Regions from separate parts of the Homo sapiens genome. Here region 1 is linked to region 2. Evidence: fine-mapped expression QTL. A gene starts in region 2. The other region holds a variant in brackets. All regions are shown on one strand. Distances are between the middles of the regions.

Region 1 (2,913 bases), 64 kb after region 2:
ATGTATGTATGTATGTGAGACAGTCTCGCTCTGTCGTCCAGGCTGGAGTGCAGTGGCAAGATCTCGGCTCACTGCAACCTCTGCCTCCTGGGTTCAAGCAGTTCTCCTGCCTCAGTCCCCCGAGCTGTGATTACAGGCATGTGCCACCACACCCGGGTAATTTTTGTATTTTTGTTAGAGATGAGAATTCACCATGTTGGCCATGCTGGTCTCCTGACTTCAAGTGATCCGCCTGCCTCAGCCTCCCAAAGTGCTGGGATTACAGGCGTGAGCCACCATGTGCAGCCAGTAGTGCTCTTTCTTTACCTCTGCCCAAATGAGGACAAGGAGATGAAGCGTGGCTGAAAGCATCAGCCTCTTCCCAGCTGTCCTGATTGCATGGGCCGCTTGTCCACTGGACAGGTACTTTTCCTGCCGGGCCTGCTCGTGTGGTTTGGACAGATGCCCAACTGTCAGGCTCACTCTGTTCTGTTCAGGGAGCTGGCATTTGCTCCAGTTTCCTCACCTGCCCACAGGGCAGGTGTGTGTCTGTGCGCCCCAACCCCCTTGTCTTATGAGGCCCACTCTAATCCAAAAGGACCTCATCTTTACATAATCAGATCTGCTACGATACTATTTCCAAATAAGGCCATGTTCACAGATATATGAATGGTAAGAGCCAGTGGGCCAGGTTGCCCATGTGAGGGAGCCGGTCTCCGCACCTTGAATTTCTCTACTGTTCTGGCCTCCGGGGCCATGACATTGAGGATGGCTGGCCACTGGGCATTGCTCCTTGCACCATTTTCTCTGGGACTCCCTGATACATGTGAGGTTCTTCTTTCTCAGGCCTCTTTGAGGTGCAGGGACCCCCCCGCCCCCATTGCCTAGTACTCCAAACTGGCCTAGGTCTACCTCTCCCAGCCCAAATGTCCTGAGGTCCGTGACTGGATTATGACTTCATAAACACCCTTCCCCCACCCTCACCACCACCACTTCCAGCATCTGAGCTGGAAGACTGCCCGTGTCCTTCCAATCCACTTCCCTTCCCTGTTGTTCATCCTCACATTTCTCTAACCACAGGCCAGCAGAGCTAGAAAAAACCCTAGGACAACTAGTCCAGCAACGGCGAAACATTCATTTTAACCTTAGTTCACATGGTGCAGCCGCTACAGAAAACGGTATGCGAGTTCCTCAAAAAATGAAACATATGATCCAGCAGTTTCACTTCTGGGTTTCTGGGTATATTCCC[A/C]AAAAAACTGAAAGCAGAAACTTAAATAGCTGTTTGTACACCCACGCTTATAGCAGCATTAGTCACAATAGCCAAAAGGTAGAAGAAGCCCAAGTGTATATCAACAGATGCATGGAGAAACAAATGTGTATACATACAATGGGTTATTATTCAGCTATAAAAAAGGAATGAGGCCAGGATCAGTGGCTCACACCTGTTATCCCAGCATTTTGGGAGGCCAAGGTGGGCGGATAACCTGAGGTCAGGAGTTCAATACCGGCCTGGCCAACTTGGTGAAACCCCCGTCTCTACAAAAATGCAAAAATTAGCCGGGCATGATGGCAGGTACCTGTAATTCCAGCTACTTGGGAGGCTGAGGCAGAAGAATTGCTTGAACCACGGAGGCGGAGGTTGCAGTGAGCTGAGATCGCACCATTGCACTCCAGCCTGGTTGACAGAGCGAGACTCTGTCTCAAAAAAAAAAAAAAAAGGAATGAAATTCAGATACATGCTACAACATGGATCAACCTTGAAGACATCATACTAAGTAAAATAAGCCAGTCACAAAAGGATAAGCAGTATATGATTCCACTTATATGAGGTACCTAAAGTAGTCTAATTCAAAGACAGAAAGTATAATAGTGATTACCACGGGTTGGAGGGAAGGAGAAGGGGAGTTATTGTTTAATCATATAGAGTTTGGGAAGATGAAAAAGTCCTGGAGATGGACAGTGGTGATGGTTGTACAATAATGTGGATGTACTTAATGCCACTGAACGGCACACTTAAAATGGTTAACATGGTAAATTTTATGTTATGCATATTTTACAACAATAAACTAGTAAATACACAGGTCCTGTTTATTCTTTTTTTTTTTTTTTTTTTTTTTGACGAGTCTCACTCTGTTGCCCAGGCTGGAGTGAAGTGGCACAATCTCAGTTCACTGCAACCTCTGCCTCCCAGGTTCAACTGATTCTCTTGCCACAGCCTCCTGAGTAGCTGGTATTACAGGTGCCTGATACCACACCCAGCTAATTTTTACGTTTTTAGTGGAGGCGGGGTTACCCCATGTTGCCCAGGCTGGTCTCAAACTCCTGACGTCAAGTGATCTGCCCACCTCGGCCTCCCAAAGTGCTGGGATTACAGGCATGAGCCACCACGCCTGGCCATTAATTTCTTTATTCAAGTCTTTTACGTCACTTTTTGCTTCTGAGATGTGACCAAGATGGGAGTTAACCTTTCTAAAATCAATGTAGTATTTGCAATTTTCCTTTTTTGGGGAGACAGTTTTTACTTTAGGACCTAAGGGCTTGTGACTGTTATTTCTCCCTTTTAAAAATGAGTGTAAAACCTTTGTTTCGTTCATAATTTGCACCTTGACTTTCACTTTGTATAATGTTAGGTTTATCACCTCTGCTGTCTTTTCTGGTTTGTATTTCATTCACTGCTTCCTTCTGGAAATAACATAGTGCTCCTACTATGTGCCAGGCCTGTTCCAGGTACAGAGAATATAGCAGCAAACAAAACAGACCAGAGCTCTATCCTGGTGGAACTCACATTCAAGTTCGGGGGATGGTAAACCAAAATACATAGGAAAAATAAACTTTTGTATTATCTGCATGTTGGACCCTTTGTAAGTCAAAGGTCCTCGCAGATCCGCAGGCAGGTGGGGAGCAGCAGAATATCACGGACACGCGTTAGAAACT
Region 2 (2,913 bases):
TTCCGGGTATGACCGGAAACAGCACTCAATCTATTAATAGAGTTCATTTCTGACCAAAATCTTAAAAGAATTTGCAAAGGGATTTGACAAATCAATCCTTAAAAAAAACCTTTTAGCATGGACTTTTTCAAATATATTAAAAAATTAGAGGAATACTTTAATGTATTACATAGCTTCAATAATTACCAACACAAGGTCAATCTTGGACAAGTCCATTTTTAAGTTCATCTGAAGAGTAACTAGCCATTAACATCTGAAAAAGACAAAGGAAGAGAAACTTTAATAGTTATCTAACAGAGGTATTGCAGATAGCCCTGAAACAGACTCACATTTTTGTGGTCATTCAGAGAGTGACAAAGGTGCAATTTCAAATCAGTGTAGAAAGGATGGCTTAAAATTAATATTATTAGGTCAATGGGCTACAAAATTGGGAAGAATTGAAGTTAAATAATTTACAGCATATGGAAAATAAATTTCAGATGGATTAGAGCTCTAAATGTAAAGTTAAGCCTATAAGAAAATTAGAAAAAGTTATAAGGGAATTATAGATTAGTAATCTTGGTGTGACTGTCTCCCCAAGCCATGTAAGAATGATAAATCTGATTACATGAAAACCTTAAGCTTCTACAGAGTGAAAAAAACAAATTAAAAGACAAGTTAGAGACTGCGAGAAACATATGTCACTCATAAATCAGACCAAGGAGACTGGACGAAGACATGGAGATGTGAAGTAGGAGGTGTGCTCAGGAACATAGTTTAATGTCATCCACGTACAGGATAAACGGCTTCCCACGTCATGTCCCAGAAATCGATTAGTCGATGGGATTTGGGTGAGTACTTTCTTCTCTCTGTTTTCCTGAATTTTTCTTTTTTCTTTCTTCCCCTTTCTTCTTTCTCTTTTTTTCAGAATGATGGTGTGTTTGTAATCGACATTTTAAAAATTCTGTAACAATTAAATTTGGGGGCGGCCTTCCCTTGTTTCCCGTATGGAGTGTTGATGTTTCAGCAGCTTTATTTGGAGTTTACACGTGGAGGCACCTGGGTTTGGGGATTCCTTTGTGTCCCCAAGACACCTATTGCAGAAGTGAGTCCTAAGAGGTAGAAAACAGATGCGTGCGCAGGGCTGGGTGAAGCACTGTGGAGCCTGTGTGAGAGGAGGCACGGGCGCGAACACAGGAGCGCACTTCCTCATTCCGTTTCTCCTCATCCTCTCTCCCACTGCCACTGGCATCACTCATCCCATCCGGTCATCCCAAGTCACACGCAAGAGTTCGTTCCCGGCGCGCGCGTCAGCCTGACTCGAGCGTCTCCACGTCCGGGGCCCGCAGGGGAGCGCCCCTGCCCCGTCCGGTCGCTTGTTGTGTTGTCATCACGTGGCCTGGGCGGGCCCTGACGTCAGGGGCAGGGGAGGGACGGCGCAGGCGCAGAAAAGGGGGCGGCGGACTCGGCTTGTTGTGTTGCTGCCTGAGTGCCGGAGACGGTCCTGCTGCTGCCGCAGTCCTGCCAGCTGTCCGACAATGTCGTCCCACCTAGTCGAGCCGCCGCCGCCCCTGCACAACAACAACAACAACTGCGAGGAAAATGAGCAGTCTCTGCCCCCGCCGGCCGGCCTCAACAGTGAGTGCGGGGCCGAGGCTCTGTGAAGGGGATGGGGGAGGAGGAGCAGCCCCGGCCGCCGCCACCGGCGCGGCGCGGGAGGCGGGAGGAGAAGGCAGCTCATTGGCTCAGGCATGGGATGTCCAGGTGACTGACAGCTCCCGTCCCCTGTCAAGAGGAGGGGCGCCTGCCTTGCTCCGGGCCTCTCTGTTGCCTCCTGGGGTCTTGGGCCCGGGGCCGTTTGGGCTCGCGGTCCGGGAGCGGCGCGGGTAGCGCGGATCCCCCTGGTGCGGGGGGTGGTCCCCAGCAGCGGAGCCGGGCGGGGCGGGGCGGGGGCGGGCCTGGGGGGCGGGGAGGCCGGGTGGGCGGAGCGGGCCGCGGAGGGGACGTGGGCCGGGATGGGGACGTGCGGCGGGGACGCCGGGGGATGGACGCGCGGGAGCGGGGCGGGGCGGGCGGCTGCCGCGGGACGTGTCGGGGATCAGGTGTGCGGGGCTCGCGGGCGGGCAGCGTCTGGCGGGCGCGGGAGCCCCCCAGCGAGCATTCCTTTGTTGCCACACGTTTGTCAGGAAAATTCATTTGCTCGTCTAGGGTTGGCTTCAGTCACGTGTGGGGTGAGAGGCTGTGCCTTGCTTCTCCTTTTTCCTTTTTTATTTTTTTATTAGATTTCTCGAAGTTGCCCAAGTGATTTTTTTTTTTTTAAAGCGATGGGTTGTGCGCCCAGTAAAGCTGAGAGCAGCCTCCTGAACCACCCAAGATTGCACACGTCAGGGAGTCTGGGGCCATGCATTTAAAGAAACGGAATTAAAAACGCACTCGGGCAGTTGAAAGTTAACGGACGAGGCTGATAGACAACCCAGGCCAGGGTCTTTTCATAACATTCCGCTGCCCAGACATCTTGTCCTCAGATTGTTCCTAGTCGTGAGAACCGGGAGCCTTCTTGGAAGGGTTCTTGCCTAACCTTTCTTTAATTCAACTCTTGGGAAAGAGGTAATGGGAGCAGTGAGCATATGGCCAGATGAAGTCTTTTCAAAACCACTTGGATGCTTAAAGGTCATGCAGTATCTTTCGTAAGAGGGAGGTGCTTCCAGTGTGGCCTGAAGATTATTTTAGGGAAGAGAGTTTCAGCCCTCACCAGGTAGCGATGGAGTTTGGAGATTTTAAGATGGATGCTGCTGCTCCAGGTTTTGATGGGTTAATTCCCAAAACCTTTAAGTGTCATATATTCCAGAATGTAAGATGGTTATATTATTTCCCACAGTAAATTAGGATGAATGTATGAGTCTTTAAACGTTACTTGTATCACATATTCCTATG

Evidence for each region. PIP is the estimated chance that this variant, and not a neighbour inherited with it, causes the effect.
Region 1: its variant is fine-mapped to the expression of BNIP3L in whole blood (TOPMed, PIP above 0.99).

The regions. Positions count from the first base shown.
Region 1 is chr8:26,445,153-26,448,065 of GRCh38, forward strand. It overlaps LOC124901868 (vegetative cell wall protein gp1), which reads right to left. Exons shown (of 2, transcript XM_047422506.1): 2 at 2,044-2,913. Among named protein-coding and RNA genes, the nearest start is that of BNIP3L, 64 kb to the left of the region's middle. The variant A/C (reference allele first, on the strand shown) is at 1,229.
Region 2 is chr8:26,381,614-26,384,526 of GRCh38, forward strand. BNIP3L (BCL2 interacting protein 3 like) reads left to right here and starts at 1,441. Exons shown (of 6, transcript NM_004331.3): 1 at 1,441-1,617. The coding sequence starts at 1,518. It also overlaps the pseudogene SDAD1P1. RefSeq lists enhancers at 1-1,117, 1,091-1,390 and a silencer at 1,601-2,190.